Linked DNA regions of Homo sapiens: region 1 is linked to region 2. Evidence: fine-mapped expression QTL. A gene starts in region 2. The other region holds a variant in brackets. All regions are shown on one strand. Distances are from middle to middle.

Region 1 (4,393 bases), 100 kb after region 2:
CACTGCATTTGGCAACTCCTCTCCATCCATTACGCTTTGAAGTTCTAGTGTCTGTTAATTTTGTTAAAGATGGAGTTTGTAGTTGTTTCTTATCCTTACTGTTTTGAGTTGATTCCAAGAGTAAAAGGTGTCAGACATGTTTTGATTCTGCCACTGATAGTTTTGTTTTGTTTTTCTGAGACAGAGTCTCGCTCTGTCACCCAGGCTGGAGTGCAGTGGCGTGAGTTCAGCTCGTTGCAACCTCCGTCTCCAGGGATCAAGCCATTCTCCTGCCTCAGCCTCCCAAGTAGCTGGGATTACAGGTGTGCACCACCACGCCTGGCTAATTTTTCTATTTTTAGTAGAGACAGAGTTTCACCATGTTGGCCAGGCTGGTCTTGAACTCCTGACCTCAGGTGATCCACCTGCCTCAGCCTCCCAAAGTGCTGGGATTACAGGCATGAGCCACTGTGCCCACCCTAATGATTTTCTGCAACCTAATTAATGTATAGATTAATATTTCCCTAGTGTGACATTATATTGTGACACTATCTACATTATGGTTTTGTACCAAAAATCTATGATTCTAGGCATGTAAATAAAAAGAGAATTATGTCTGTCTTTCATAGAGGCCATTCTTCTACATAGGTACTTGTTCGCAATGAATTTTGAAGAGTTCTTTCGAGACATGGTAAACACAAATAGACCTCAGTTCTTACTTCGCCATGTGAGAGAAAAAAAGACCATTTCTAGCCTTAGAAATCATTTAATATAGACTGATAAACTAATAGGCAAATTTTGTAGATTCCTGGTACTAAATAAGTGCTAACATTTTGAAATGAAAAGGTTTTACCTGAATCTGATTCCGCAGTTGTTCTGCTTCTTGCCTCAACTGTTCCAGTTCGCTCATTTTTTCAATTTGTTTACCTCAGGAGCTAATGAGTGAAAACAGCTGTTAAAAAACAGAGAGCAAGAGAAAGATTCAGTTCTCTACTTACATCTTAATCTGGTTTTACAATACTGACATATAACTTCTTTTTGGACCTACTGAAATTCAATGGAGGTAGTCAATTATTAAAGGAATTTAAAGATGCTTAGTAAATATAGAATGAGGTTATTTACTGAAGGGTTGTATACAAGAACATGATCAGAGGATGGAGGAGAAATTCCAAGTTGTAGTATTCAAGGCTGAATTATGGGGAATTAGTACCAGAATGGAGTCTGGTGAGAAATATTTTACAACAGTTCAGAGGACACCAAGAGACTTCCCCACTTGGATGTCTGGATTGGCACCTAACACAGTACCTCAAAACTGAACCCCACCCCACCCCCAAGCCTTCCCCATCTCAGGAAACGGCAAGACCATCCTTACTTACAATTGTTTAAGCTAAAAATGTGGGAGCAGTCCTGTTTTAATCATAGCCTCCCCATCGAATCCATTTGCAAATCATGTCAGTTATTCCTTAAGAAATTATCCAGGTTCTAATTCTGATTTCCTCCACTTCTACTGTCTGGGTCCACATCACCATGACCATCTCTCACCTGGTCTCCTTTCTGCTGCCCTCGACCACTCTCTGGTCTAATTAGAGCAACTAGAGATCCATTTAAAATACAAGTCACTTTAAATCCTCCAATGGTTTTCCACTCCACTAAACTCTATCTTGACCCACAGACCCTGTATCATTACACACACACACCCCCCTCTGACCTCATGTATCACTCTCACACTCACTCTGTTCCAGTTGTTCAAAGACTTCTCTGATGTTCCCTGAACATGCTAAGCAGGCCCCAGTCTCAGTGTCTTTGCATTTGCTCCTGCCTCTGCTTGGATAGCTCCTGTCTCTGATTTTATAAT[C/T]CCTTGCTCCCTTACTAAATCTGCCCAAATGTGATCTTCTCAGTGGGACCTTTGCTGATAGCACATGTGCACCCAAACATGCTCCTCTTACCCTGTCTTGTTTTTCACTATGAGACTCAACACCATCAGCATGTATTTACTTACTTGTGATCTCTTTCCTTCTGATAAGATGTAAAGGGTCTGGTGTGGTGGCTCACGCCTGTAATCCCATCACTTTGGGAGGCTGAGGTGGGTGCATCGCTTGAGGCCAGGAGTTCAAGACCAGCCTGGGCAACATGGCGAAACCTCATCTCTACCAAAATTACAAAAATTAGCTGGGTGTGGTGGCACATGACTGCAATCCCAGCTATTTGGGAAGCTGAGGCAAAAGAATTGCTTGAATCTGGGAGGAGGAGGCTGCAGTGAGCCGAGGTCACACCACTGCACTCCAGCCTGGGTGACAGAGTGAGACTCTGGCTTTAAAAAAAAAAAAAAAAAAAAAAGATGTAAAGTTCCTTCAGGTAGGGTCTCTGTTTGCTTTATTCTTTGTTGTATCCCCATCACTTAAGATACTTTGGTCTCCAGTAAATAAAGCAACCTGAAATAGCTTAACAAATAAAGGAATATTCATTCTAAGGATTTAGGATGAATCACAGAACCAAAAGACAGGAATATTACTACCTCAAAAAGACACTAGAGGCTAGAAACTGGGAGTATTCTTTCTCTACCTGTCCTGGTCTCTTTTCTCTTCTTATCTTCCTTGGTTTTTTTCTTTCTACAGAATGACTTTTTCTGCTCCCCTAAGTACAAAACCCAAGCCTATAACTTTTTAGGTCAAGATTGTAGCCCGAAATGACTGTCCTAAGTCCAAATTCCTATAAAAGATTGATTCCCCTCATGAGAGAGAATTTGGTTTTGATGTCTATGCTACAATCGCATCAACTATGGTACAAATATCTGTTTATTATGTTCAGACAAAAAGAAAAGAAAAACCAGTATCTATTTATTCTTTCAGAATTCACTTTGTATTTATTTTGTCCAATTAAAAAATAAATGTATTGGGATTGACTGGAATGGCATTAAGGTATATAAAACAGTTCCAGAAGAACTAAAATCATTCTAATATTCCATTTCCAATTTAATATTGTGGCATATTTCTCTGTTTATCCAAATTTTCCATCTTTATTTATGAGTCTTAACCATTCCCTGATAAAGTTTGATTGTTTAACAATTTAGTATGCATCTCAGAGAGGGCCAGACTGGACAGATTACAGCCGGTCTGGAATCCCATTCCGCTGAAGTGAAGACAAGCAGCATGCGGGCTCTTTAAAGCCGCAACCTTAGCTGCCCTTGCTGACCATTCCTGAGATATCCCTGGCCCCACAGTCCTAGAAACTCTCATTATTTTGATACCTCTTTATTTTTAGGGTCCCAAAACATTTTGGGTAAGCACAACTAGTTTACATCCCTCCTACTAACTAAAACACTAGAAAGAACTATCGAGGGACCCTAAAGGGCCTCGGGACTTTTTAAAAATTTGCAGTTATTATTATTACTATTATGGTTATTATTTGTAGAGATGGGGTTCTAGCTATATTGCCCTGCCAAAGCACTAGGACCAAAGGCATGAGTCGCTGAGCCCAGGCTGGGTCTCAGAACTTTTAAGCTTATTAAAAATTACCTGTAACCCATCCTACTGCTGTCCTTCCCCCAAAGCCACACACACATACCAGTGACCTTCTAAAGCAGGAGTTACCTGTAATAAGAGTTACTTGGGATAAACTATGATCTGTACCAAATGAATGAGAATTTCCAGGCTGAGTGCCCCTAAGGATGGAGGTACCATGAATAGAAATGGGAAACAAAGAAAAAGCAGTTCCCTCACCACCATCACTCCGTGGATGGGGCACCGATGGGATGACGGGTGAGGCAATCTGTCCCAGACCCGGGCCCTTCCTGCACATTCTGGCTGGGAATGCCAAGAACACAAGTCCCTAGTGGCTGTTACTTGGGCCATCTCTCAGGGTTGTTTTGCAACATGCAACCTCAAGGAATAAGACAATGTCTCCTCATGAGATGAAGAGCAGAATGGCTTCTATTTACTGTAAAAGGGGTAAAACCCCCAAGCTCAGTGTCTCTAGGCTGTGATGAAATCCAGTGCACGTGCAGCATCCATCTGGGCCTACCTGTGTCACCCTGTGGGCACTGGGGAACACCGGGAATCAACACAAAGCATCATCACACCATGCTACTCACCGTTGAGTAATAAAATCTTTTGTCTCTGACCAAGGAGTTTCATCAAACAGTAACAGACTCATTTATTCGCTTGTAAGTAGGTAAAGATCCCAGGTCCTTTACAGTCATGGATATAGGGTTCAGAAGAAAAAAGATGAGGGGTCCAATGTGGAAAATAGTGAGTTTGTGGCTCATCCCTTCTTAACCAGGCTTCATCCAGTACTTCATCAGGCATTCTAGGTCCAGAACTTCAAGCCTTTTCACAGTACCCTAGCCTGCCTGCCCTTCCATCTTGTCACACTCAACAGCAAAAGCAAAACCCTGGATGAAAGCAGCTACCTACTT
Region 2 (4,393 bases):
CCCGTCTCTACTAAAAATACAAAAATTAGCCCCGTGTGGTGCCACGCGCCTGTAATCCCAGCTACTCGGAGGATGAGGCAGGAGAATCGCTTGAATCTGGGAGGCGGAGGTTGCAGTGAGCCAAGATCACGTCATTGCACTCCAGCCTGGGCGAAAGAGCAAGACTCTGTCTCAAAAACACACAAACAAACAAACAAAAAACATAAAGAATGCTCGTGCTATACTAATTGGAAAAAAGAACCTGTTAGAAAAAAACACAGCCAATATTCTAATTTTGAAAACAAATTTTTATGTCAGTATAGGTATAAAAATAACGGAAAGATAGAAAGCAAAATGTTACCATTGATGAGCTCAGGGTTGTGAGATTATGGTAAATTTACTTTTGCTCTTTGTACTTTTCTGTTGTCTCCATTCTGTACTAAAAACGTAACTATTTTCTAATCAGGAAGAAATTAAGTGGCCGGGCGCGGTGACTCGCGCCTGTAATCCCAGCACTTTAGGAGGCCAAGGCGGGCGGATCACTTGATGCCAGAAGCTCAAGACCAGCCTGGCCAATATGGTGAAATCTCAGCACCACTAAATATACAAAAATTAGCCAGGTGTGGCAGCTCGCGCCTGTAATCTCAGCTAATCTGAAGGGTGGGGCACGAGAATTGCTTGAATTTAGGAGGTGGAGATTGCAGTGAGCCGATATCCCATCTCTGTACTGGAGCCTGGGCGACAGAGTGAGACCGTGAGAAAGAAAAAAGAAAAAAAAGAAAAGGAAGGAAGGAAAGGAAGGAGAAATTAAGCTATTCTACAAGTGTGTGAAAAAGTTGGAAGAACGATGTTTTAATAGCCCTGAATCAAATTTATAATAGTATTTAACAAACTCTACAATTTAGCACTCTTGAGATTTTAGGGTTTTATCCCAGCTATCACCCTCCCTTGGAGCGGGAGATGAGGAAAAGAGGGACCCAAAAATGAAACTGAAAAACACTCCAGCTAATCAAGAACTTGAAATTGCTTGCAATTTGTGACTATGTTAAACAACATCTAAACAAAGTCAAGCTCCTCTAAGTGCAAACAATACGTGGGATGCTGGGGAGAGTGTGCGTTTACTTTCACTACAAAATGTTTTGGAGTAAAACTTCATTTTGAAATATAAAGATTTTGTTGGACACAAGGCTATGTGGTAAGGCAAAATGGTAAGATGGTGGCATGACACCCCCTTGTGGTTTCCACCGATTCCCGGTTCTGTGCTAGATACTAACTATTCTAGGATTTAAAAATGTCTCTACATTTCTTCGAACTTTAATTCGGGCCATACTAGCATTCGTGAGCATTTATTTGAGCTGAGTACGCACATAAAACTTAGGAGGTCATAAAAACTGAGCCTCACAAACAAGTAGTGTCTCTTTCAAATATAGCTTTATCTCCTGGGGGATGGTGAAGGGATCAGAGTAAAGTCTGTGATTATTACTTTCCAGCGATTGATTGGTTGATTGGCATGTGGTTGTCAGAAAAAGCAGTGGACGTGAACAAAGAGACATCATTGCAGCCCTAACTATCCGAGTGACCTTGGGTACCTGATAATCCACATGGCTCTCAGTCATCCTCTTAACCGTTTGAACCTCAGGGGTTTAGGCTACCAAAATGAATTAAGACCCAGTCTTTAGCTTCTCACACATTTACTTTTCCATTTTGTAAAATGTGACTAAAAACCTCAACTCATTGTCAAAAGGACTGAATTAAACATATCACCACACTTGCACAGAGATCATTTATGGAACCATGTTCACAAATTTATTTATGCTCGTGTAATTTAATCATTTCTACAGCTGCTCAAAGAAAGTCAAAGTCGAGAAAGGACTTAAATCGTCGAGTCCAGTCCCCCTTAACTCCTCATTCATTCCACTATTTCTCGAGCCAAGGAATCGGGTGAAACTCAACAACGACTCGCAGTCTTCAGGTTTCACCCTCTTGCCCTGAGGGCAGCATCCTAGCCCTAGGTGGTTCTCTGGTGTGGCCTCAGTAAAACCGTGACGAGGTCCTCGGCCTCTCTGTCCCCAACAGGCGGCTGGCACACTTCGGGGTCTGAGATGCCATCTGCCTTGCCTAACCTGGGCAAGACCACTCGCGTCCTTTCCCTTGAGGAGCAGCGTGGGAAAGGTGCCGCTGCGCGCCACGTTTCTCCCAGTTCCCCAGGGCTTGAAGGGGCGGTGGAGGCGGGCGGGATAAATTCGCTGGCCGCCTGGCGTGGAGTAATCCTAGAGGGTGGGATCGCCCTCGGGGCTCGGGAGGGGCTCTTCCCCGCCCAGAAGGAGACTGCGGCGGCGCAAGGCCTCCGGCAGGGGGCGCGGGCCGCTGGGCCTCCCCCGGGGCTGCGGGCCGGTGGTCCCTCCCAGGCCGCGTGTGCGGTGCGTTCGCGCAGCCCGCTCCCTGCCCCCACCTCACCTCGTCACCTCCCCGCCCTCTCGGCGGGCCCCTGAGGTGCGCGGCGCAGGCGCGGAGCGTGGCGGCCAGGGCAGTGCGGCCGCGGAGCCTAGGCCAGGGGCCTGGCGCTCAGGGCGTGGGGCGCGCGGGGAGGGAGAGGGGTCGGCCCAGCACAGCGTCCGGGAGCGCTAGGGCCGGAGCAGCGCTGCCCGCCGCCGTGCGTCCGCGGGAAGGACCGCGCGGCCCCTCCGCCTGCGCTCTCGGCCGCCGCCGCCTCTGCGTGGGCCGGCCGGGAGGGCCTCGGGGGACTGACTGGTGAGTGTGAGGGAGGAGCGGGTGGGTCGGGCGCTGGACTGCTCCAGGGGACGCGGGCGTGCGGGCGCATCTTCTAACGGGAGAGGGCGGGAGAGACCGGAGCTCCCTTTATACGGAAACTCTGCCTTCGTTATATGGCGGGATGGCGTTCCCCTCCCCCATCCCGAAGGCAGTTCCACCCCCTGCGCAGGACGCCTTGGCCGGGCTCCCCTCGGCCCCCTGCTGCCGTTGTCTTTACGGAACCTTTGGTGTCGGGGCTTGGAAGTCTCCTTGGCGCCGGCTTCTGGGCCCGGGCGAAGCTGGTGCGTGGCGCCGGGGTGGAGGCGGCTAAGTCCCAGGGACTTCTGCCCTGCGCCTCCGACGGGCATTTGTCTGGCTGCGTCCGGGCTCGGGACGATCCTGGGTCCTCGCTGGCGCTGCGGCCCTGCCCGGCGGCTTCGTGACCTCCGGCGGCGAATCCCCGGGCTCGCGCAACGAGTTGTAGCCGCGGAGAGCAGGCGTCGATGCTGGCGCCCAAAGCCTCCAGCCTGAGAGTCGCCTCACTCGTGTGACGGTGCTTAGAAACCCCCTTTTTTGGTTTTGTCTTTAAGTACTGTCTAGGGAAACGAATCATTTGAAGCAGTTTATGCCTTTTTTGTTTTTTTCGAAGAGAAAGATTTATGCCGGACTGAAAAATAGCGAATCAAGTATTTAGTGACCGTGTGATATTGCAGTAAAGACTGCCTCCACGTTGGACATGTAGTGGATTCTAGTTCAGGCTCTCCTGCAACATGTTTTTGTTTCAATTCTTTTACAATTTAAAGCATATGCTTATTTTAATGAGAACGAAAAAGAAAGCTTAACTCTTTTTAAACTCGTTAAAAATGGAGTTATTTACTGTAAAGACGTCTTACAGCAATTAGGAAGAATATACATTGCATGAAAGGCCTTTTGAAACGTTTATCTATTTGATGATTGCTGACTGCCTGTTGTATGTATTCTATTTTGTGCATAGACTTTCTTGTTGGTTGAAAAAAATGACAGGTGGAAAGATGTTGGTTTCTAGGTGATATAAAAAATTTTTAAACATTTTTCTGATTTTTCTGCAGTGACACGTGTTACATATGTCGTTTGTATTTCAGAGGGAGGGGGGACTGTGATAGGTTGCTTGTGATTCAGAATCTTCCTGCTAAGAAGACTAGTGAGCAAATGTTTATGACATCCTTGAGTAGAAAGCTAAGTTTTTTCAAGGCTGTTATGCACACAAAAGGCACATAAAAATGATTGCTAAAATGAAGGATGGTTAGCATTTTTGGTCTTGAGTAGGCATCACCATTGTGCTGAAAGGAAGTCCGATAGACATTTGGTTATCGTTCGGCCCTAAGTAGGAGTCAGACCCTTCCTGATCCGTGTGCCTCCTCCTCTCACCTAACAGCCTGAATCCAGGCCAGCTTGCAACGTTGATTTTAATACCACGCTTGGTTTCCTTTTCTTACTTTTATTCTTCAAGTTGCAAAGAACTTGAGATGCATTCTGAAATAACAAGAGACTACTTAACATGTTCGGCTGAGTGTTTTCAGTGTTCTCCCTGATACTTTTAGAGTATTTAGAACATGAAGTGTGAAGCTTTGGGCTATATGAATCGTAATAGCTCTTCTCTTTTTGATTTTTGAATGCAGTGAAT

What was found. PIP is the estimated chance that this variant, and not a neighbour inherited with it, causes the effect.
Region 1: its variant is fine-mapped to the expression of ZNF639 in blood mononuclear cells (TOPMed, PIP above 0.99). The same link has a PIP of 0.9 or more in lung.

The regions. Positions count from the first base shown.
Region 1 is chr3:179,425,312-179,429,704 of GRCh38, forward strand. It overlaps GNB4 (G protein subunit beta 4), which reads right to left. Exons shown (of 10, transcript NM_021629.4): 2 at 833-931. The coding sequence starts at 889. Among named protein-coding and RNA genes, the nearest start is that of GNB4, 24 kb to the right of the region's middle. The variant C/T (reference allele first, on the strand shown) is at 1,835.
Region 2 is chr3:179,320,562-179,324,954 of GRCh38, forward strand. ZNF639 (zinc finger protein 639) reads left to right here and starts at 2,470. Exons shown (of 6, transcript NM_001303426.2): 1 at 2,470-2,730. RefSeq lists silencers at 2,200-2,639, 2,670-2,809 and an enhancer at 3,380-3,429.